Linked DNA regions of Homo sapiens. The protein of the gene in region 3 purifies or fractionates together with the protein of the main gene of each other region. This does not show direct contact. Each region holds a gene or a part of one and is shown on either strand. Other genes may lie near its edges. The genes, in order: PNKD, SCO1, EYA2 and DNAJB12.

The links.
Region 1: the proteins of EYA2 (region 3) and PNKD purify together in Homo sapiens (affinity purification with mass spectrometry, with the first as the bait; one large-scale study listed by BioGRID). This does not show direct contact.
Region 2: the proteins of EYA2 (region 3) and SCO1 purify together in Homo sapiens (affinity purification with mass spectrometry, with the first as the bait; one large-scale study listed by BioGRID). This does not show direct contact.
Region 4: the proteins of EYA2 (region 3) and DNAJB12 purify together in Homo sapiens (affinity purification with mass spectrometry, with the first as the bait; one large-scale study listed by BioGRID). This does not show direct contact.

What each region holds. Positions count from the first base shown.
Region 1 is NC_000002.12:218,334,857-218,340,923, forward strand, and holds part of PNKD (probable thioesterase PNKD isoform 1 precursor), read left to right. Parts: intron 1-4,926; coding exon 4,927-5,042; intron 5,043-5,172; coding exon 5,173-5,285; intron 5,286-5,871; coding exon 5,872-5,930; intron 5,931-6,067. UniProt on the Homo sapiens protein: Probable thioesterase that may play a role in cellular detoxification processes; it likely acts on a yet-unknown alpha-hydroxythioester substrate.
Region 2 is NC_000017.11:10,672,472-10,678,538, reverse strand, and holds the end of SCO1 (protein SCO1 homolog, mitochondrial), read left to right. Parts: 3' UTR 1-6,065; downstream 6,066-6,067. UniProt on the Homo sapiens protein: Copper metallochaperone essential for the maturation of cytochrome c oxidase subunit II (MT-CO2/COX2). Not required for the synthesis of MT-CO2/COX2 but plays a crucial role in stabilizing MT-CO2/COX2 during its subsequent maturation.
Region 3 is NC_000020.11:46,899,903-46,905,969, forward strand, and holds part of EYA2 (protein phosphatase EYA2), read left to right. Parts: intron 1-485; exon of another isoform or gene 486-1,363; intron 1,364-1,524; exon of another isoform or gene 1,525-1,846; intron 1,847-6,067. UniProt on the Homo sapiens protein: Functions both as protein phosphatase and as transcriptional coactivator for SIX1, and probably also for SIX2, SIX4 and SIX5.
Region 4 is NC_000010.11:72,347,090-72,353,156, reverse strand, and holds part of DNAJB12 (dnaJ homolog subfamily B member 12), read left to right. Parts: intron 1-6,067. UniProt on the Homo sapiens protein: Acts as a co-chaperone with HSPA8/Hsc70; required to promote protein folding and trafficking, prevent aggregation of client proteins, and promote unfolded proteins to endoplasmic reticulum-associated degradation (ERAD) pathway.

The DNA.
Region 1 (6,067 bases), on a different chromosome or scaffold from region 3:
ATGCAAATATCCTCTTTCTCATCATACTTGGGTGATTTGACTGGGGTCTCCAGGTGTTAAGAGTGTGCTCTTGTGTGTTAGAAACTCTCGGTGTTAGCCTGGGAGCGAATCAAGACATCTTCTCTTCAAAAAAATAATAAAAATAATTAGCTGGGCATGTCTGCTCATGCCTGTAGTCCCAGCTACTCGGGATACTGAGGTGGAAAATCGCTTGAACCCCAGCGTTTCAGGCTTCAGTGAGCTGTGACTGAGCCACCACACTCCAGCCTGGCTGACAGAGGAAGATCCCATCTCTTTAAAAAATAAATAAATAAATAAATAAATATAAATATAAATAAAAATGGGCTGGGCGCGGTGGCTCACGCCAGTAATCCCAGCACTTTGGGAGACTGAGGCAGGCAGATCACCTGAGGTCGGGAGCTCTAGACCAGCCTGATCAACATGGAGAAACCCTATCTCTACTAAAAATACAAAATTAGACGGGCGTGGTGTCGCATGCCTGTAATCCCAGCTACTTGGGAGGCTGAGGCAGGAGAATTGCTTGAACCTGGGAGGTGGAGGTTGCGGTGAGCCAAGATCACGCCATTGCACTCCAGCCCAGGCAACAAGAGTGAAACTCCATCTGGAAAAAAAAAATGTTAATTGTCCTGTCTGTCCTACTAGATAGAACCTTCACAAGGACAGTGAGTTTGCCTTGCTCAGTGTGTGTTCAGTGCCTGGCCAATAGCAAGGATTCAGTAAATATTGTTGAAGAAATGTAAGTTGGCCAAATCTAATTTAGAAATAAAACCAAAAAAAAAAGAAGGCCTACGAAAAAGGAACATAAAGACAAATAAAGGTTGGCAAAGCCCTTCAACCATGTGCCCAGATTGCCAATCAATATAAACCCATGGGTACATAGAGCAGACAATGCAGTGATTAAACTTTACCTAAATCATATCTACAAATTGCCATGGAAACCTGCTTGGTTTTGACCCAACTGCTTGCAGACAAATCAGCTAGCTCTCCCCTTAGGGGTCTGAAGAGCGGCTGCCCCTGCTCCCACATACACGGTCAATCCTTGTAGAGACTTAGGGTCAGCCAGGCGTGGTGGCTCATGTCTGTAATCCCAGCACTTTGGGAGGCCAAGGCGGGTTGATCATGAGGTCAAGAGATTGAGACCATCTTGGCCAACATGGTGAAACCCTGTCTCTACTAAAAGTACAAAAATTAGCCAGGCGTGGTGGTGGGTGCCTGTAATCCCAGCTACTCGGGAGGCTGAGGCAAGAGAATCACTTGAACCCGGGAGGCAGAGGTTGCAGTGAGCCAAGATCGTGCCACTGCACTCCAGCACGGTGACAGAGTGAGACTCCATCTCAAAAAAAAAAAAAAAGTTTGGAAAAAATAGCCATTAAAAGTACTAAAATATGAAGCTTTTTTTCTTCTACAATCTCTATTTTGACCTGTGATGTTTTTAATTTGCTATTTAATGTCATTCTAAGTAAGAAGCATTTAAATTATTAGCAGGAATTTTACCATTTGCTTAATATTGTGCAATGCCTGTTTTAAATACAAATATAAGGACATTTAACTCCTGTAGAATCACAGAAACGACATAATTAATATTTCTTAGCTTATACATGGATGTGTATTTAGTTCTTACCAGGAGAGGGTCTCCTCTGTCACTCAGACTGGAGTGCAGTGGTGCAAACATGGCTCACTGCAGCCTTGACCTCCTGGGTTCAAGTGATCCTCCCACCTCAGCCTCCCAAGTAGCTGGGACCACAAGTGCATGCCACCATGCCTGCCTAATTTTTGCATTTTTAGTAGAGACAGGGTCTCGCCATGTTGCCCAGTCTGGTCTCAAAATCCTGGGCTCAAGCACTTCTTCCATCACCACCTCCGAAAGTGCTGGGATTACAGGAGTGAGTCACCACACCTGGCCTTCAATTCTTTTTTTTTTTTTTTTTTTTTTTTTCAGACAGAGTTTCACTCTTGTTGCCCAGGCTGGAGTGCAATGGTGTGATCTTCTTGGCTCACCGCAACCTCCGCCTCCCAGGTTCAAGTGATTCTCCTGCCTCAGCCTCCCAAGTAGCTGGGATTACAGGCGCCCACCACCACACCCTGTTAATTTTTGTATTTTTAGCAGAGATGGGGTTTTACCATGTTGGCCAGGCTGGTCTCCAATTCCTGACCTCAAGTGATCTACCAGCCTCTGCCTTCCAAAGAGCTGGGATTACAGGTGTGTGCCACTGCACCCAGCCTTCAATTCTTTTCTTTTTTTTTATTGAGATGGAGTCTCACTCTGTCGCCCAGGCTGGAGTGCAGTGGTGAGATCTCGGCTTACTACAACCTCAGCCTCCCAAGTAGCTAGGATTACAGGCGCCTGCCACCACGCCCAGCTAATTTTTGTAGTTTTAGTAGAGATGGGGTTTCACTATCTTGGCCAGGCTGGTCTTGAACTCCTGACCATGTGATCCACCTGCCTTGGCCTCCCAAAGTTCTGAGATTACAGGCATGAGCCACCGCGCCCGGCCTTCAATTCTTAATACGTGCACATTCTGCCAGCACTGTTGGCTTGCTAGTTAATAAGGAAGGATGGAAAGGAAAAGGATGGATTGGTTACCCTATCTTCCCTTTCCTTTCTATATCGCTATTTGCAGCATAAATAGGTGGATAACACAAAAGCAAGAAAGGATGCAGCAGAGTTCCTTGGTCATTCGTGTTTCTTAGAACACCTCTGTCTTTGTGCACTTGAAGCACGTTCTAGTTTGAACTGAAAGCTTGGCCTCTTGGGTCAGTCATAGGTGTGCACTCGCCTTGTACTTGCTTTGAGTCTTGTTGAACTCCCATGCGTTGTGTGTCCCCCAGATTTGTGTGCTCATGGGCATTGCAGACTCTGTATAGGTATGATAAGCGAGGAACGGAGCACACTCACTGTGTGTGTCTCTTGCTCCCTGCATGTCCCACTGTCCTATCAGGCTCCACTTGCAAGACACAAGGTCAAAGATAAAATCATTAAGAATTTCAGGGTCGGGCACGGTGGCTCACCCCTGTAATCCCAGCACTTTGGGAGGCCAAGGTGGGCAAATCACGAGGTCAAGAGATCGAGACCATCCTGGCCCACATGGTGAAACCCCATCTCTATTAAAAATACAAAAATTAGCTGGGTGTGGTGGTGCACGCCTCTAGTCCCAGCTACTCAGGAGGCTGAGGCAGGAGAATCGCCTGAACCTGGGAGGCAGAGGTTGCAGTGAGCTGAGATTGCACCACTGCACCCCTGCCTGACGACAGAGTGAGACTCCCTCTCAAAAACAAACAAACAAACAAAAATTTCAGGCTTGGCCAGGCACAGTGGCTCACACCTGTAATCCCAGCACTTTGAAAGGCCGAGGCAGGCGGATCACCTAAGGTCAGGAGTTTGAGACCAGCCTGGCCAACGTGGCAAAACCCTGTCTCTACTAAAAATACAAAAAATTGCCGGGCATGGTGGTGTGAGCCTGTAATCCCAGCTACTCGGGAGGCTGAGGCAGGAGAATCACTTGAACCTGGGAGGTGGAGGTTGCAGTGAGCCGAGATTGCACCACTGCACTCCAGTCTGGGCAACAGAGCGAGACTCTGTCTCAAAAAAAAAAAAAAAAGAATTTCAGGTGGGACACGGTGGCTCACACCTGTAATCCTAACACTTTGGGAGGCCAAGGCAGGAGGATTTGTTGAGCCCAGGAGTTCGAGACCAGCCTAGACAACAAACTGAGACCCCATCTCTACAAAAAAGATAATTGGGATTACAGGTGCCCATCACCACACCCGGCTAATTTTTGTATTTTTAGTAGAGACGGGGTTTCACCATGTTAGTCAGGCTGGTCTTGAACTCCTGACCTCAGATGATCCACCTGCCTCGGCCTCCCAAAGTGCTGGGATTACAGGCGTGAGACACCACACCCAGCCTCAGATGATTTTTTTTTTTTTTTTTTTGAGACAGGGTCTTGTTTTGTCACCCAGGCTGGAGTACAGTGGTGCAATCATGGCTTACTGCAGCTTCACCCTCCCGGGCTCAAGCAATCCTCCTGCCTCAGCTACCTGAGTAGCTGGGACCACAGGCGTGTGCCACCACGCCCAGCTATTCTTTTTTTTGTGTGTGTAGAGACCCTATAGGGCACAATGTTGCCCAGGCTGGTCTCGAACTCCTGGGCTCAAGTGATCCTCTCTCCTTCCCTCCCAAGGTGCTGGGATTACAGGTGTGAGCCACTGTACCCAACCTTCTTCAGATGATTAGGATGCATGCTAAAGTCTGACCACCACTGTTCTTTCTGAAATATTTTTTCTACCTCATTTCAGCCTCCTAATTCCTACTCCTTCTTCCCTGCAAATGTCACTTCATCAGAGGTGCTAGACCCTGGGCTAGATTAAACCCCTCACTCTCCAAGTCTCTCTTTTTTTTTAGACAGAGTCTCACTCTTTGGCCTGGGCTGCAGTGCAGTGGTGCGATGCCCAATTCTCCTGCCTCAGCCTCCTGAGTAGCTGGGACTACAAGCGTGTGCCACCACACCCGACTAAGTTTTGTATTTTTAGTAGAGACAGGGTTTCGCCATGTTAGTCAGGCTGGTCTCGAACTCCTGACCTCAGGTGATCCGCCCACCTCGGCCTCCCAAAGTTCTGGGATTACAGGTGTGAGCCACTGCGCCTGGCCTCTCCAATTTTCTTCTGTGAGTTCCTCAGTTCATGTCTCCCTGATAGATTTTGAGTTCTAGGTGTGTCCGTCTCATTCTCCATCTTGTCCTGAGTGCTAAGCAGGGCAAACAGTAGGCACATAATAAGTGAGAGTGGAATTGCATTGGCTCACAGGGTCACCAAAGGAATGGAGATGTGGGGCCTGCAGGCATCACGAAGGAGTCTAGGGGAGCTAGGGAGAAAAGGCTAATCATAGGCCACCCACTCGCCCTCTAGGTACAGCCTGTACACCCGCACCTGGCTCGGGTACCTCTTCTACCGACAGCAGCTGCGCAGGGCTCGGAATCGCTACCCTAAAGGCCACTCGAAAACCCAGCCCCGCCTCTTCAATGGTGAGCTCTGACTGCCCCGGCCAGCATCCCCCATTCTGTGCCCCCACCCTCCCCGCCTGCTCCCCTTCACATACCCCAGCCCCTGGGCTCCCTGCCTGTTACCCCGCCCACAGCCCATCTCTGTCCCCAGGAGTGAAGGTGCTTCCCATCCCTGTCCTCTCGGACAACTACAGCTACCTCATCATCGACACCCAGGCCCAGCTGGCTGTGGCTGTGGACCCTTCAGACCCTCGGGCTGTGCAGGTGAGGGGAGGGCAGGGAGCAGGGGGTGCCTGGAGTCACCTTGGGGACTGGCAGTTTCGCCTTGCTAGAGAGGGCTGACCCTTGTCCGTCTGCCCGTGGGATGTGTCCCATATGCTCCATGTTCACACGTGCACATGCGCACACATAGCCTGGGGAAGGGGGGTACAGGGCATGGCTGGGCAGAAGGGGAGAGCAGGAGTGGGGGATGCAGAGCCAGAGGGCTGGGGGTGTTGGCCCAGGACTCTGGGTCTAGTGAGTTTCCAGGCTGGCTTTCACTCCCATTGGCCCCCTTCAGACCCCCTTTCTTTCTGTCACCTCTGTCTGTCAGTATCTGGGTCTCTCTGTCTTTCCCTCCCATTCCTTATCTCTCTGTGTCTGCCTCTCTCTATGTACAAGTGTCCCTCTGCCTCCATGTGCCCCGTGCTTCACATTCCTGGATCTCTCCCCTCCAGCTCCATCCCTTTCCTCTGCTTCATCTCTCCATGCTCTCCTCTCCTCTCCACCAGCGCCCACACTCCTGGCTCTTGCTGCTTCAAGTGCCTCTTGCATCCTGCTCCCCAGTCTCCAAACCTCCTCTCTCTCGCAGGCTTCCATTGAAAAGGAAGGGGTCACCTTGGTCGCCATTCTGTGTACTCACAAGCACTGGTAAGGGGCTCCCGTCTTCCCTGGCCCACCCTTGTCCCAGCTGGGCTTGCCAGGACTGGGCCCATTGAGGACGGCCGGGGCCAGAGATCAAGAAGTCAGTACGGGCCGGCACCCGCCTTCCTCGTGAAGTCACCTGG
Region 2 (6,067 bases), on a different chromosome or scaffold from region 3:
TTGCAGCAAGTTTGCTCTTAGATAAGATTCAGTCTTCGTTCTCAGCTGTTGCAGGTTAAGGCTTGTGAAATGATCCAAAAAGGGAACAGCAGCTTTTGGAGAAAACTTTTATTTGTTCTTCATTCTAGTGTCAAGTTTAAAGGCTTGAAGTCAGAATGTTAGAAGTGGGGAAGGGGACCTTAGAGGTGACGTCTTCCAGATGTTCCTGTTTATGCACAAGGGGACAGTCTCGGAGAATTAAGGCGCAAAACTCGGGTCCCAATTTCTAGGTAGGTTCCTGTTTGTTCTGCTGCTATCGTGCGCTTATGGTGACTGTGTGAATCCAACCAAAACGGAGGTTCCGTATGCCAGTGGGGCAACGTTTTTCAGCTGCAAATCTTGGGAAATCAAAAGCAAGGCTGTTTTTTTTTTCTTTTCTTTTTTGAGACAGAGTTTCACTCTTGTTGCCCAGGCTGGAGTGCAATGGCGCAATCTCAGCTCACTGCAACCTCCACCTCCCAGGTTCAAGCAATTCTCCTGCCTCAGCCTCCCAAGTAGCTGGGATTACAAGCATGTGCCACCACACCCGGCTAATTTTGTATTTTTAGTAGAGACTGGGTTTCTCTATGTTGGTCAGACTGGTCTCAAACTCCCGACCTCAGGTGATCCGCCGCCTCGGCCTCCCAAAGTGCTGGGATTACAGGTGTGAGCCACCACGCCCGGCCTCAAGGCTGTGTTTCAGTGAAATATCCCTTGCAAATCTTTACCTGGGTGGGTTACAGTGTTTTCACTAGACTCTTCAATAGAATTAATATTTTAAGAAATGCCACTTGTTTATTTGAAAAGTATAAGAATCCTATCAATGCAGTAGGCATGAATGTATTCATGTGTCTGGCTGTTCATGAAGCAGCTGATATCTTAAGTGTAAGAGGTGAGATTTACTGACTACCAGTAAAATATGCGAGTTGGGAGGCTAATGATTTTAAATTGTAAATGCGTCTGCATAAGATCCTTTAAAATAGCTTTTATTGTTCTTAAATTTATGTTTAAAAGAAATTGACATTAATATTTTCAAATCATCCATAATCTCCCAAACCTTTTTTGGTTTTCTGTTTAGTACCATTTAAATCTTTGTGTATGTGTATATGAGCTACCTTTAAAAGAGCAGTCACCCATGCGAGCATTTGTTACCCAATTAGTTTGTACTTTTTTTTGGTTTTTATTTTGTTGTTGTTATTTGTTTCTTTTTGAGATGGAGTCTCGCTCTTCTCACGCAGGCTGGAATGCAATAATGGCATAATCTTGGCTCACTGCAACCTCCGCCTCCCAGGTTCAAGCGATTCTCCAGCCTGAGTCTCCCGAGTAGCTGGGATTACAGGCGCCCACCAGCACACCCAGCTAAATTTTTGTATTTTTAGTAGAGACGGGTTTCTCCATGTTGGTCAGGCTGGTCTCGAACTCTCAACCTCAGGTGATCCGCCCGCCTTGGCCTCCCAAAGTGCTGGGATTACACGCGTGAGCCACTGCGCCCGGCCTAGTTTGTGCTTTTTACTTACCAGTTAGGGGTTATATTACTGTGTAACAAAATGGACGGTTATTTCTATTCATTAACAAGATTCAAGTAATAGCCTCTTTAGCCACATATTCCTTAATAACACCTTTAGACCTTATAGGGGTAATTATTTTCTATATACTTTTCCAATGTATTTGAAAGTTTGTTGGCTCTTCTTCCGTAATTATACTATATCCTCAGTAAAGAAAGTTTGGCATACAGAAAAGTTGAAGGAAGAAAATTTTCAATCACTGTTGTTCCACTACCAAGAAATAATACTTGGAGGTATTTCCTTTCAATCTTCAACATGAGGATGCTAATGTCCCCCTCATAAGGGGCCTTAAAGTCACTGACTCTGTGCACTATTTCATGAGAACATTGATGTGGGTATTTAACCGAAAGAAAACTTGAGTTTTCTTTTTTTCCTTTTTATTGTGAAAATTTGGAAACTTATTCAAAAAGTAGAATAGTTAACTAATTGATGTACCCATCAGCAAGCTTCAGTGATTACCACCATTTAATTTTGTCTGCACCCCCCCACCCACTGCCACCCCAGCCCATTCCCAGCATGTGCCTCTGAAAGAGACCAACTTTGTCCTTTAAAAACAACCACAGTTGGCTGGGCACGGTGGCTCATGCCTGTAATCCCAGTACTTTGGGAAGCAAAGGCGGGTGGATCACCTGAGGTTGAGAGTTCGAGACTGGCCTGACCAACATGGAGAAACCCGTCTCTACTAAAAATACCAAAGTTAGCCGGGCGTGGTGGCGGGTGCCTGTAATCCCAGCTACTCGGGAGGCTGAGGTAGGAGAATCGTGTGAATCTGGGAGGCGGAGGTTGCAGTGAGCCGAGATCACGCCACTGCACTCCAGCCTGGGCAACAAGAGTTGTCTCAAAAAACAAAAAAGAAAGAAAGAAAAAAACAACCACAGTTTCATCAGCACAGCAAAAAGGTTTTTGTTTTTGCTCTTGGATTTTGTCGTTTGGTTTTTGCTTAATATCAAATATCCAGTCAGTGTAAACTCGTTTATAATTTGGTCCTTTGATTTCAAGGAGCTATGATGCAGTTCGTTGTGGGGATGTGTTGTCTCCATGTCATACATGTGACTTTGTCCATGTTTGCACCCAGTTCAAGGAAGACACAACCCTAGGGAAAGACAACCCTCCCCGCCAAGCCTCTCTTCCCATTCTTAAACATAGGGTGGCGTTATTCAGGTTGGACCAGTTTAAAAAGACTAACGCATTTGTCCTCGTTGTTGGGTGTTTTTTTTCTTTAAATTTGTAAAACAGGAATAATTGTGTTAGGATGAAGTATGATACTAGGAGAACAGGGAAAACTAACCCATCGTGTTAAAAGTCAGAATAGTGCTTAACTCTGGCAGGAGGTGAGATGGTTAGTAATTCAGAAGGGGGTGCCAGGAGAGCTTCCAGAGCCATTGAAATGTTCAGTAGCTTGATCTGGGTGATGATTTACATACATAAAAACATATTAAACTTTGAACTTAAGATTTATGCCTTTTACTGTTTGCACCCTATAACTCCAAAAGAAAAGTAGAGGGGAAAAAGAGTCCCTGCAAAAGGCAGTCTTGAAAGAAAGCAAGTCTGTGATGTGGAGAATGCATTGGACAGCTCTCAGCAATTTGCTGTAGCTTGGGCAGAGAGATAAAAGCTAATGCCAGCATCAGGTTGCCCAGGCGAGAGAAGGCCTGAAAGAAGACAGCGTGGAGAAAGTGTCAGCAAGCTTCAGCAACAGCAGGAGGCAGATGGTAGGAGAGTGGGCCTCAGGTGTGGTGTGGCAGAGCAGAGTAGCCACACTTAGGCCCCAGAGACAGTGTCTTCTCACCCTCAGTTGAAGGGGCAGGAAATCAATCGCTCTAGTCACCCCTAAGCTGGAGGACGGACCTAAAGTTGCCACAGCTTTGAGAGGCAAAGAAGTTTGCTCAGTGGCTTTTAGAGACTTCTAGGGCCCTGGGACCCTGACACTGAGGAGGAGCAAACTGAAGGGGAGAGTGGGCACATTCCTTGTTGGCTGCTGTGGTGAGCAGCAGCTGGTCGTTGTCAGTCAAGCTCCGGACCACTCTGATGATGCTCACTGCATTTTGATGGAGTAAGCCAGGGACATTACCACTGTGTTTGAGCCATCTGAAGTATTCCTGGGTGGGTCTGCAGTTGGCAGCCCGTGATCCTTTTTCCATTCAAGGATGATGCAAAGGTAAGGGGCCAAGGCTGAGCTCTGTAGATGCCTGTGAGAGCCTCCTGGTCTCAAGAGGTCATACCAAGGGCCTTGGCCACCAAGGTTTCGTGAGGACCTTGAGGTGGTTTCGCCATCACAATGTCAGACGTGTCACACACCATCTGGTATGTCCTCACTGTATAGAGGAAGAAGGGCCCAAGTGGTGAATTATCTACAAGTTTGTAGCAAAGCTAATACTCAGACTCCCTCTACAGCCTTGCTACTCAGTGTAGTCTGTGGTCCGGCAGTGTCACACCACTGGGGTACTTAGCAGAAATGCAGCTTCTCAGGCTCCACTCCAGCTCTCCTCAATCACAGTCTGTTTTTTTGTTTGTTTGTTTGTTTGTTTTGAGATGGAGTTTCGCTCTTGTTGCCTAGGCTGGAGAGCAGTGGTGCGATCTTGGCTCACTGCAACCTCCACCTCCCTGGTTCAAGTGATTCTGCTGCCTCAGCCTCCCAAGTAGCTGGGATTACAGGCGCCCGCCACCATGCCCGGTGGCGTGCATGGTAATTTTTGTATTTTTAGTAGAAACAGGATCTCGCCATGTTGGCCAGGCTGGTCTTGAACTCCTGACCTCAGGTGATCCACCCGCCTTGGCCTCCCAAAGTACTGGGGATTACAGATGTGAGCCACCACGCCTGGCCCACAGTCTGTATTTTAACAAGATCCCCACCTCAGTCTTAGGCACATGGATTCTCCTCAACCCCCAATACCACAGAGTCTATTAATTTTTACCCAATAGGGAAGGGGAAAAAGTCAAGAAAGAATAATGAATTAAGTAATCTTTCCCCCTCCAGGAAGCTCTTTATTTAATTTCGCTCCCATGAAACACAATTTGAAGAGTCTCTCAAATAAACAAATTCCATTTTCTGATAATTATTTAATTGCCCCACTTTTGAAATTTTTGTCAAAGACGACTGTCACTCCCTGTCAGAACTTCTATTCAGCACAGTATACCAAGCGTTTCTCCATCGAGTTGTTATAATATGATCAAAAAGCAGGGAGAGATGCTGCTTGGTTACCCTGTGGGGCCTTATCGGGGCTCAGTGCAGTCTTTCCATGTAGGCATTCTCAAATACTCAATTGAAACCTGATTGAGGATCATTTGATCTCTGTTGGCCCTAGTGCAGTAGGCTGCTGAGAACCACTGATGCAATAGACTGAGAGACTAACTGCCTGCTTCCCTGTCAGCCCAGGCTCTGCTAAGGCCGTCTTAGTTACAGAAGAAAGTGGGGCAGAGAGCCCTGCAAGGATTACATTCCATTCCTAACGGAGACAGGCAAGCGTTCAGTGCCCGAAGCAGGGCAGGCCTTTGTATGGCTCACTTTTCCCTGTACCAGCCTCAGCCCCGTACATTCAGAAAGCCCTGTCGGGAACGTGCGGGATCACAGCACAAGACAGTCATTCACTGATTGATTGACGACGTCAACATTGCGGAATACCTATGTTAAGCTGAGTACGAGGGATATAAAAAGTAGGCCCTGGAGAGTGCCTCTGGGATGCACATAACCAGACAAGATAAAGAAAAGGCAGATCACGAGATCAAGAGATCGAGATCATCCTGGCCAACATGGTGAAACCCCATCTCTACTAAAATTACAAAAATCAGCTAGACGTGGTGGCGGGCGCCTGTAGTCCCAGCTACTCAGGAGGCTGAGGCAGGAGAATCGCTTGAACCCGGGAGGCAGAGATTGCACTGAGCTGAGGTCATGCCACTGCACTCCAGCCTGGCAACAGGGCAAGACTCCATCTCAAAAAAAAAAAAAAAGAAAAAAAAGAAAAATTAGGGCAGCTTTTAGACATGAGGCCCCAAAGTGCCAACTAGTGCACCTAAACTTCAACTCTCTTTTGAGTGTTTTATGTATCTACTCAGCATCCAGTTGTAAATATGCAAAAATCAATGCCTACTGTATTTAAAAATTACTAAATTCACAATAACCACACAGAATCTATAATAAATAGAATCAATGTAATAATGACTCAGATCCAGGGGAAGAAAATTATAAAATTTTGGAAAAAATGATGAGCTATTAATTAAGAAAATAGTTTGTTCCTTGGTGAGAAGACTCAATGTAAATATGTCAGTTTTCTCCTGACTTAAGTCTTCAACACAGGCCTAATAATATTGCAGTGGCAAATGATTGCCAGGGGCAGGAGGGGATTTGGGGAAGTGGTAAAAATGATCTGTGTCTTGGTAGTGGTCGCTGCACAACTGCATACATCTGTGAAAACTCACTGAACTGCGCACTTTAAAAGGGTGAATTGTAATATACATACCTCAATAAACCTTACTTAAAAATTACA
Region 3 (6,067 bases):
GCCTTCAGATATATGCAGAAATCTAAAACAGGAACTTAGACGCGCCGCAATGCCAATTTAAACATCTTTAAAAATGAACAAAGTATGTAATAGAGGTTAGAAACTCTTTTGTCATTTGGTATCAATAGTGTTGTGTCAGTAACATGAAAATGTGTGTAATTTCAATGGCATTGCACTTTCTTCTTCTTTTTTCCTTTTGAGTATCTAGTAAAGTTACATTTTTTAAAAGTCTGTGTTCCCAGATGTAATAGATACGAACGTATCTACTTGCAGTCATTCAGAGGAGAATTGTCAACTCTCTGCTAATGTAACTAAAGGAAAAATGATAAAATCAACATATTTTTCCCCAAAGAATGAGGAACTGGAGGGTTTGACTACTGTATATGGCAACTTACTTTTGTCTCGCGTCAGCTAAATCTGTCAGTTCCCCTTTCTTTTCTATTCATCTCCCAAGAATGGCCTTTCATAACTGAAATACACGTGTATTAGCCAAAAGACATTTTAATTTTGTAAAGAAAAATCATGCCAGAGACAGCCGGGTCTGTTTCAACCATTATTGTTTCTGCAGCATGCATACTTTGGGTTTCATGGTAAGATGTGGGTTTGTCAAGAAAGAAAATTACAGCAAGAAGCTATGCTGAAAACATATACACTTCTGTTTAAGAAATGAGAAAAACACAGAAAAATTCCACACAGTAATTGCTTTTACGTGAGTTTTAAATGTCATTGTTTGACTTATGTCAAAAAGCCCCCTTAGCCAGTTCTCTCATACTCCGTTACCAAATATCTCACCTTAAAAACAGCAAATGTTGGACTTCATTTTGATGATCTTTGAGGCTTTCAGAGATATCCTTAGTCCTAGTGGAAACATTCCAAATTTTTAGATTGTGCAGGCCATTTTTTTAAGGTTACTTAGATATCGATTTTATTTTCTTGACCCAAAATGAGAAAACACGGGGAATTCTCAAAAGCTTTTTACAGGCTGCTATTACGAGAAGAGAAGCCAAACCAACATGTATTAGGTCATGCGCTTGAAGTGCATAAATAAGCCCTATGAAGGTCACCAAACAGGGTGAAAACCACTAGTTCTCGTTACCTTGGCCACCTCTAAATTCCTGCCTGTTAGACGTGTTTGGTTGAAGTGGACACAGAAAGCGGGTTTCCGAGCCCGTGGTTGAAAGATCTCAATTTGACTTGGGTCCTCAAGGCGTCCTTGTGGTAAAGGGAGATAGGAAGGCTGAAATTCTGGTCTCCTCCCCATGGCTCCCTCTCACGGTTCCGGAGAAAAAGCAGGTACTGGGGCCTTCTCTTACTCCAAAGCAGATGTTTCCTACCTGGTATTCGGATATGCGGAAGTCAGAAGCTGAAAATAAAATGAAATGAAAATGTTCCTTCTGGTCAGTTTCTTCACCTCCCATTCCCTTCCTATAGTCACTTTGTGGTTAAGGTATTCATGGTTTCCAAAACAATTTTTTGTTCCCACTATGTTTTCTAGCATTTAAGATGCAAGGTATAAGTACTCACCTTTAAATCTCTATTGATTGGCAGCTTCCTGAAATACAGAGTCAGAGAGCGTGTCCACCACGTCCTGAGTTTGGTACCAACCCAGGTGCTGATGGAAATTCCAAGTAGGGAGAAAACGTCCTCTTCGGAGAGGCAGGGTGTCAGCGCAAAGAGGTTATTTTCTTTTGTGGGTGTGTATTATTTGCACATATCAGGACTTTTGTTTCAGGGTGTTCTAGAAACATTGATCTCTCCAGCAAAGTTCTGCGTGTCCTTCTTGGTTGGGAAGGGAGCGGAGAGGAAGGAGCCCCGAGGAGAATCGTGCACCTTTGGCCTTTTGTGTGACTCCTAGAGTAGAGGGAAGCCTCCGCTGCTCGGAAGGTGTCACGTGGTATAACAAGTTGTGACTTGTGCCTGTGTTGTCAACAGAGTTTTAGCCCCGTCCAGACATGAAAAAGAATGGAGCCCCGAAGATGATTCACCTCCGGTCTGCGATGGGCCCAAGCTGTCCAGTGCTCTCCTCTTGCTAAACAGACCATACTCCCTGGAGGAGTTAATGGCTGGGGTGTGGAGAGAAGACCGGTAGGAGGGGAGAAAGAATGCCTTAAACTCAGCAAATGTCTAAAACGCTCAAAATGTCTCAGCATTGCTCAGGCACCCACAAGAAAGACAAACTGATAAAAGGACATAGAATCAGGCTTTTTTTGAGGGGGAAGCACAGAGAGGTTGGGGGTTTGCTAGAGGTTTGATCTAGAGTGGACAATTTTTCTAACACCTTGGGACCCGATTTTGGAAATGTCTTCCTGTAGCCTTGCTGTCATTCCTTTGTGCTTATTTTTAGTGAATTAGTTTTGGGGATTTTCTTTTGTTTTTAAGAAAACACAGAGTTGTAAGACTTGTTTGGGAATCACAGGTTTTATTGAACACTTATTATTTATTGAATATTTATTATGTCCCAGGCATTGTGCTGTGGAAATACTTTATATGTTTTGTCTCCAAATGGCAGTAGATGGAACGTGCTGTTATTATTATTTCTATTTTACAGATGTGGAAACTGAGTCTGGAGAGTAACTTGTCCAGGATCACATGGCTTATGCCAGAGCCAGGATTAAACCCAGTTTTGATTCCTAACCACTAGGATGTCCAGCCTGCTCCCGTGGTATAACAAGAACTTCCCTTTCTCCATCTGTCTGCCCTGGAGAGCTAGATTTTAAAGTCCTTTTCCACTTGCATTGCCTTATGGATATTTATCGATGGTTAGGTACAAAAATCAGGTTGAGAAAGTAAGAGACGCCAGCAGATTCTCACAAGATTTTGAATCTGCCCTTGTAGAAATGAATGAATGTTTCAAGCTGGACCTATGGAAATGGTCGTAGCATCACTGCAGTTAGTGGCCTAAGTCATTGCTTACAGCTGCTCTTGCCCTATAACCGCAGGGTTGAACAGCCGTACTACAAAGACCATACGGCCTGCAAAGACTATCTGGCCCTTTACAGAAAAAGTTTGCTGACCTCTAAGCTATTGCAATATGACAAGACAATCCTTGTAGACCAGAAATAACATGCACTTGGGACATTTCGTATACCATTTCAATGATTTATTATTTATCAGGTGCCTCCAATGTGCTTGACACATTGCACAGTGATAGGGGAAAATTACAAGTGACTTCATTCCTTCATCCATTTACTTAACAACACTTATTTAGCTGTGTTCTGGGCTGTTTACTGGAGAGCCAGAGGTGAGAAGGACCAAATCCAGCATCTCCGGTAGGAGGATCCCAATGTGTTCTCACCAGTATCCCATGGCCTCTTCTTTCCTGAGGGTGCAGAGGGTGTTGACATGACTTTTTGAGCTTTCTAATGTTTGAGCAGCAGAATGGAAGCAACACCTCAGTCTGTAGACCCTCACCCACAGAAGCTATGCCTGGTTCAGTAAGAGCAGTGCCTCGGCTTCTGCACCTGAAACCGCACTAGGCATATAGGACTTACCAGTGCCCCAGGCTTACTCGGCCGACAGCAACTCTCTGCTTCCCTCAATGCGTTGTGCAGAATGAGGAGGAATGTAGAGAATCAGACTTTCCAAACCTCAGCCTGGGTACTGACTTTCAGCCTCGAGATTAAGAGCTTGAGTCCAGGAGCCAGGCTGCTCAGGTTACACTTCCCCTCAGTGTTAACCTACTCCTGCGTTTAACTTGGGGGTAAGTTACCAGACTTTTCGGTGCCTCAGTTTCTTCGTCTGTAAAGCAGGGTGAATAATAATGCACCTTCCTCAGAAAGCTATCGTGGAGATTGAGTTAATAAACATGAAGTGTTTGGAACTACGGCTGGCAAGTGGTATGAATTATATCAGTGTCAGCTACAGTTATTATTATTATTTATGAATTTGACCTGAAGCAAATTACTTAGACTCTTTGGGATGATAATAATAATAGTAACAACAATAATAAAATAACTTTTCATAGTGCCATTGTGAGAATATAAATGAGGCGATACATGGAAAACACTTAGCTTTGCTACACTGCCTGCCTCCATTCAATGTTCAATGAGCTAGCTATTGAGATTATGGGGAACAGTGCACTGGATCAGTGCGGTGTCTATAAGCTATTGATCAGTTGAGTCATTTTAGGTATCGAGAGAATGTTGGGCAGTGGTCGATAGCACAGGCCCTGGACTCAGACAGATCTGGCCTGAGCCTGAGTCAGTCCATCACTCACGGACTGCCATCTCCAGCAGGGGTCTGACCCTCTCAACGTCCCAGACATCGGAGACAGCAGTTAACTGTTCCTGGGGTGGTTGGGAGGCTTAAAAGAGTGGCTGGCACACCGAGCACAGAGCAGGGTGTTTGGCACATAGTAAGCACTCAATAAATGGTAGCTTGTATTATTACCACCCCCATTTCTTGCTGTACCCCCACCCCCAAGAAAGCACTGAACATTAGTAAATTTTAATTTGAAAATAAAAGAACACATTTTAAAACTGCCAAACAGATTTAAAATAATATTCATTACACAAAATTAAAATATTCTATTAAAGCCAGACTTTGGGCTCAGACCAAATTTTTATAACCCAAGCTTAAAGGCCAGGGAGTCCCCCAGCCACAATGGGGACATTGTGATTGAACTTGAGACTTCAACGCTGCTATTGAGCAGTCTTTGAAATGCATGTTTCCCCTAAAATAAAAGGGAAGTAATGGGAAGGAAAAAAATGAGGTTCTTGCTCCCCTCAACAAGCCTTAATGAATTGGAAAAGAAAAACAAAATATTTCTCATTTTTCTCCTGCTACTCGATCCTGCCAAAGACGCACGGCCCCTCCCAACCCTGGCTTTGAATGGTGCCCACTCAGAACCTTCCAGATCTGATATGCTATATGAGCAAACCTAATCTAAGTTGTAACATTGTAGTCTTCACCAGGTTTTACAGATGGCGGATTGTATCACTGGGAATCCAGAATGGGGAGCCCAAATTCCTAGGTTCAAGTCCTAGTTCTGCCTCAGTTTCCCTATTCACAAAATAGAGACAGTCCTCCTACTGCATAAAGTGGTGGTGGGAGTCTGAACGGTTAGCTCTCCCCATGGATGTTTTAATCTTCTGCTGTTACCTAATGAATGAAACTTGCCCTGAGTTCTGGGACTTTGAAAAATTAAAGTATACAGGTATGCCTCTGAGAGTTATAAATTAAAAAAAAGTCTATTCAGGGAGGAGAATGGAGGAGGGAAGAAGGAGACATAAAAATGGCTCACAGGAGTTATTATGTGACAGACACTTTCACAAAGCTCATTTAATCCTCTCAAAAAAAAAAAATACATGATATACATGTGTCCATTTAACAAACATGGAAACTGAGACTTGGACAGATCGAGTGACTGCCCAGCGGCATTCCATTCCAGGTCTGTGTGACCCAAAGCATGGGCCTGTTGTACCACATGACCCACAGCCCTCCTGGAACAAGGTCACAAACAATCATGGTGGACTGGAGAGACTCCCCTGACCAACCAGTTATTTATGATCTATTCTTACATTTCAATAGCATCCTTCATCCTCAATGAGCCTGAGTTGCTGTGGCCTTTTACCCCACATTCCATTGAGAACCAGTAGATTTTTTCTTGAACAGCACATGGAAAAAGTAACGTAAGTGGGTTGCAAAATCCTTTTCTGGATGAAATCCTTCAAGAATCCCTGCCATTTCTTGCCAACCGGAATGAAGTGACTTCCTCCTCAGACCAGGCCAGGCCCTTGGCTATGGTGTGGGACCATGAGACAGAGTTGTCTGAGGCTGGGCAGCTCCTGGAGAGGGTATGGGGTCCCCTCTATCACCAACCTGCTGTGTGTCTTCGGGCAGATCACAAGAGCCCTCTGAGCCCCAATCTCCTCATCAGCCCATGGAGCAGACACCTTCTATATAGGATTTGTTATACGACTTAAATAAAATGACAGTGGAATACTTAGGGTACTGTGGAATTGGACCCATTCCCAGGAGTACTCAAAGAAAGGGGAGAAAATGAAAGTTACTTGCCCCAGGCACATTCCTTACTGTTCTTCAGGTAGCTACCGTTTGGGGACTTTAG
Region 4 (6,067 bases), on a different chromosome or scaffold from region 3:
GCTTGAAGGAGTGTCCTCTCTGGGGCTCAGGCTCTGGAATTTGCTGAGACAGAAGAACCACCTGCATGCATATTTGTCATATTTGTGCTTTTCTGGAAAGACTATGAGACTATACGCCTTATGCATCCGTGTAAACTTTACCATCTGCAGCCCTCCACTGAGCTGACAAAGACCTGGGATTAGTTTAGGTCTGGGACAGGGAAAGATCTTACTTCAAAAATAGAGGGCAGGGCTACCCACTGGGCTGGCTACCTGCCTCCCCAGGGGGAGTAATACAGATATATTAGGTGGCGGTCTATTGCTTTGGGTTTAGGCTCATCCCAGATGCTCATTCAATGCAGCAGACTTTTGTTGAAGATCATTTATGTTTTGTTTGCAAAGTCCTCTGCTTGGTGCTAGCAAGATTGGTAAAATGTGATCCCTCACCTCAAAAGAGCTTATAATCTAGTGAAAGAGACAAAACTTACAGAAACAAATATTACAAGACAGAACTGTAATTAAACAAAAAATAAACCCAAGGTTAGACGCTGAGGACTTAAGGACAGGCATGAAAAAATCAGGCCCCATCATCCATGGGTTCACAGTCTGATGGTGGGGAGGAGGTGCGGAGGACAATCTCCTGAACATTAAATTATCAGCAGTTTAGTGAGTGCTGTAGCAAGTGCATAAAAATAATGTTATCTCACAGTGAGGGAATGCTTTGGGGATGACAGGAGTTAACATTTGAATTGTGCTTTGGAGGACGGTGTGAGACTTGAGGAAAGGCATCCTGGAAGAAGACAAAGGAGCTGAAAGTTGTAACGTTTGGGGGAAGAGATCAAAGTGTAGCAAGATTTAGAGGCAGTGGAGGTGGTAATTCGTATACAGAGAGGATTAAGTTTGGGAAATAAAATGGGGCCAGATCATAGAAATCCTTTTCTACCAGGCCAAGATATTTTCACCTTATTCTGTAGTTAGTGAGGAAACCATTGAGGTTTTTGATAGCAGGAATAAAGTACGGGCACTGTTGTTAAAAGAGAACAGCATGAAAGGTTAATGAGAGGGAAGAGAGCTTCAGGGCAGGAAGCCAATAGGAGAGAATTGCCTTGAGCTGGTTGGATATTCTGAGGGCCTGGGACAAGGCAGTCATGGATAAGGCTAAGGTCCCTGGAAAAGAGGCACCAGGCCTGTGTGAGAGAGAGGTGCAGAGGAGAATCAGATGGGATGCTGGGGAATCAGAATTGAAGCCCCTGTGACCAGGAAGAAACCAGGCTGAAGAACTGAGATGGGAAGAGATGAGCAGAGTGGGAGGTGCCAGTGGGATAGTCCAAAGGAGCTGTCAGCCTGGAACTCAGGAGAGCGCTCCAGGTTACAGGTGAAAGTGTGGTATCGTCTGTTCCCTGGAGCTCACTGGAGTTGTGCATGGCTGAGGTCACTGTGGGAAAGTATAGACCATGGAGAGAAAGTTGCTGCAGGCACAATGGCAGGCAACACCTGCCCTGAGCCCACAGGCAAAGGCAGAGGAAGCAACAGATTGAGATGGAGCAACAGGAAAAGGCAGTCCCCGGAGAGGGCAGCGGCCAGGTAGCCATGGAGAGGTAATGGCAGCAGGTGGTGAGCAGCCCTGTGTGATGCCGCAGGCACTGCATGGGAAAAGGACAAGTTAAGAGTTGAAAAGGGAAGGATCGAGAGCATGGGCAGAGGATGGTCTTGGAGAGGTGGAAGGGCAGAGAGGGGAGAGTCACGAGAGAGGGGAGGCTCAGAGCAACCTTGAAAGGATGAGGGACCTCACACTGTTGGCCTTTGCAGCAAAAAGGGATGTGAGGGGGCTTGAAACTCCTGCTGCAGGAGGTGGGACAAGGAGGCACTGAGTTAAACTGCAAAGCAGTAGCTGGGCCCTAAGCTGGGAGGTCACAGACTAGAGATGGTGGAGCCAGTCAGTCCCTTTCTGGGAGTTTCTGTCCAGTAGCTGGCAGCCTGGTAAGCCATTGGCTTTGACTCAGGCTTTGTAACAAATGTGGAAGGTGCCAGATTTCCCAGGGAGCTCACGAGAGCATTTGTAGGCCTCAGTTTCCCCAGCATACAAAGAGAGGATTGGCTGGGATGATCCTGAGGTTCCTTGCAGCTCAGGCTATCCAATGTTCTGTGAAATGGTTGACTCTGGGCTAAGTCATGAAGGCCAAGCTGGGAAGGCCAGCCCACAGGAAAAGGAGACGGATTGCTGAGGGATTCTGCATTCAGAGTCCAGGAGTGAGAGATGTTCTGGTGCTGGCGAGGTCCGGGGTGGGGTTGTACCCTTCAAGTCAGTCAACCTTCATGAGCCCCACTGTGCACTTAGCCCCCTTCCATTCACTGTATTTCACAGAATCTTATTTACCCCTCAGAGCACTCCTATGAGAGCAGAGATCGTCTCTCCACTCAGGAACCAGCTAACCTGGCAAGGCCACATGGCTAGCCAGCAAAGACCCAGAGCTGTCCATCTCCAATCCCAGGCCCTTTTCTGACTCACTGTGAGCACCGTAGGTACACAGAGCCCAGAAACTCAGCTACTCACTTACTAACAAAGTCACGGTCAGAGACAACACTGTATATTTGCTGGGCATTGGGCTGAGTTTTTTGCTGGCATTCACTCATTTCCTCTTTTAGCCTGTATGATGGAGATAGAGTTTTGCACAGATGAGCTAAGTTACCTTGTCCAAGATGACCCTTCTAGCAAATGGCAGAGCTAGGTTTGAACCCATCGGGCAGTCTTTTTTTTTTTTTTTTTTTTTTTTTTTTTGAGACAGGGTCTCACTCTGTTGCCCAGGCTGGAGTGCAGTGGCACAATCACAGCTCACTGCAGCCTCAACCACCCAGGCCCAAGTGATCCTCCCACCTTAGCCTACCAAACAGCCGGGACCACAGGCATGTGCCACCACACCTGGCTAATTTTTTTATTTTCGTAGAGACAGGGTCTTCCTGTGTTGCCAAGGCTGGTCTCGAACTCCTGAGCTCAATCCATTCTCCTGCCTTGGCCTCCTAAAGTGCTGAGATGACAGGTGTGAGCCACTGCCCGGCCAAATCTAACTCTAGTCTGGGTTCAGTGGCTTTGGCCATAGAAATCCTCTCAGCTCTACCTCAGGTGCCTCTCCACCGCAGCTCTGTTCTCTTCTATCGAATTCCCTTCCTTTTCTAAGTCTGCCAGCTTTACTGAGAAGGTAACATTAAGCTGTTCTGTCTCTTTTTGTGACATTGCCTGTCAGCCTCTGTGCCATGAGGGATGTAAGCATGAAGCTGTCACATCCCCCAGGCCAGAAGAGAGACCCTACTTGCCAGCAACTGGAAATCTTTAATTTCCAACTCAAGCAGAAAGCTTCTATGTGACCCAGGGCACCCCCATTCTCCTTTGGGCTCTCTTTCTGTACTGTAGGGAAATTAGAGTGGCTGATTCCCTGTAACTGCCCTGAAAAGCTTCCAGAATCTTCTCTGAGAGGTACAAGAGAGAGCCTGTCCCATCTCCTGGCTAGTGCTCCTGCTCATCTCTGGTAGTTGAATAACTGGTTATTTTGCCCTTAGGATCTGCCAGGCTCAGCCTGGGCCACCAGAACTTCCAGAGGAACTGAAATAATAAAGAGCTTCTTGAAAAGCTCTAGGAAACAGCATACTGCCTCCTCCTCCTGCCCCGCCTTGACCAATATCTCTTCATCTTTCGGTTTCTCTTGCCATCCCCTTGGTAGCTGGCATGGACCTGGTATCTGGGATGGCCTGAAATCTCATGGTTACTACTGGTTCCAGAGTCTGCTGAGCGCTGAGTCTTTGCCTTCCTGAGCCTTGGAGCTCCCCCGCTACCCAGCCCTCCTCCTCCCCAGCCCCCACCACAGGTTCCCTCACTTCCCTGGCCAGCCCACTTCTGTGGCCAGACACTTCATCAGCCTTGAACCTTCACTCTCTGTCAGACTCGGCACAGGTGCTTACACACATTATCCCATTTCATCCTCCGCCACCGTGACGAAACCAGGGTTCAGAGAGATTTCATAGATCAGCCAGGGTCACACTGCTAGGAATGGCAGAGCTGAGATTTGAATCTGGGCCTTTCTGAATTTGATGTCTCTTCTATGCTTTTGCTTGCATCCCTGTCCCCGATCCCCACCCCATCAGACACGTGCAGCCCAGGATAGCAGCGTAGTTAAGAGCATGGACCCTGGAGCTGGACATCCTGGGGTTCGAAGGCCCCTCTGCCTCCTAACCAGCTGTGTGGTCATGGCAGCAGTCTGCCACAGTACCCTCTTCCTACAGTGGGGTGGGGTAGGTAATGAGACCTTCCTTCTAAGGCTGCTGTGACAATTAAATGAGCTAATGCAGATCACTGTGAAAGTACCCACCTGACACACATCACTGGGTAAGAAAAATGATTGTTGCTATTGTTCCTCCCCAAGCACCCTCTCAGGGTTTGCTACAGGAGCCCGCCTCCCTTACTCAGAGCAACCCCAGCTGTGAGCTCCTGTGTTTGGATTTCCCAGTTGAAGACTCAGCAAGATCACACAAGCTCGGAGTGCGGCAGCAGTGGCCCAGGGCACAGTGCTCCACTGGAGCCCCATACTCTGTTCCCAGTGAGACTGGCTCTCAGCCTGTTGGGTCAGACCTCAGTGGGTCGCACTGGTGGGTGTGGCACCCAGCATGGCGTCTTCAGGCCAGCAGGCACCTGGCGTGTTTGAAGGAATGTGCTGGGATGTGCTGCTGTCCTTCCTTAGCACAGAGGGATGCTGGGTCCCTGCAGTGATCCAGATGCCTGTTTTCCCAGCTGGTCAGCTTGTCAGAGGCTTTAGGATTTTACTACCCAGGGCGCTGGGGCCCAGGCCTGACTGAGGTTTCGTGCCTGGAATAAATGGACACAGGGACCTGCTGCCAGAGACTTGGGCCCTTCCTCATTTAATCTGCAGGAACCACAGGCTTGTTTTTGCTTGCTTTTGTTTTTTTGAGATGGAGTCTTGCTCTGTTGCCCAGGCTGGAGTGCAGTGGCACAATCTCAGTTCACTGCAACCTCTGCCTCCCGGGTTCAAGCGATTCTGTGCCTCAGCCTCCCGAGTAGCTGGGATTACAGGCGCCTGCCACCACGCCGGCTAATTTTTGTATTTTTAGTAGAGACGGGGTTTCACCATGCTGGCCAGGCTGGTCTCAAACTCCTGACCTCAGGCGATCTGCCCGCCTCAGCCTCCCAGAGTGCTGGGATTACAGGTGTGAGCCACCATGCCTGGTGGGCTTGGTTGTTTTTGTTTTTGTTTTTCTGAGACAGAGTCTCATTCTATTGCCCAGGCTGGAGTGCAATGGCATGATTTCGGCTCATTGCAACCTCCGCCTCCCAGATTCAAGCCATCCTGCTGCCTCAGCCTCCCTAGTAGCTGGGATTACAAGCGCCCACCACCATGTTCGGCTAATTTTTGTATTTTAGTAGAGACGGGGTTTCACCATGTTGGCCAGGCTGGTCTTGAACTCCTGACCTTGTGATTCGCCCGCCTCGGCCTCCCAAAGTGTTGGGATTACAGGCGTGAGCCACAGCGCCCAGCCGGGCTTGGTTTTCAATAGCCATGATGCTGCCGAGGGTGATAGTTAATGTCCTGTATAGACTCCAGACATTGAAGAGGACATTTGGCATGGCCAACCACTTGCATTAGAAAAATGTGAAAAATAGCAAGTTGTGAGCACAGCAGATACTTCTTTTGGTCTCCTACCATCTGTGTCCCCCTTGGGCAAACTCATTTCCCCCATTCCTCTTTACAGCTAAGCAAAGGCCTCCAGGAAGGCTTCCTGACTGATCCCACCTGAAACAGAGGGTCCTGCTAAGCGGGGTCCCCTTTGCAGGGTACTTTTCCCAGCTTGGCACTCAACATGCCAAGTCTGTTAAACTCACTACTTTGAGATCTTAAAAATCTGAAGGGTTGACTGGGCACAGTGGCTCATGCCTGTAATCCCAGCACTTTGGGAGGCCAAGGCAGGCGGATCACTTGAGGTCAGGAGTTCGAAACCAGCCTGGCCAACATGGTGAAACCTCATCTCTATTAAAAATACAATTAGCCGGCGTGGTGGTGTGCACCTGTAATTCCAGCTACTT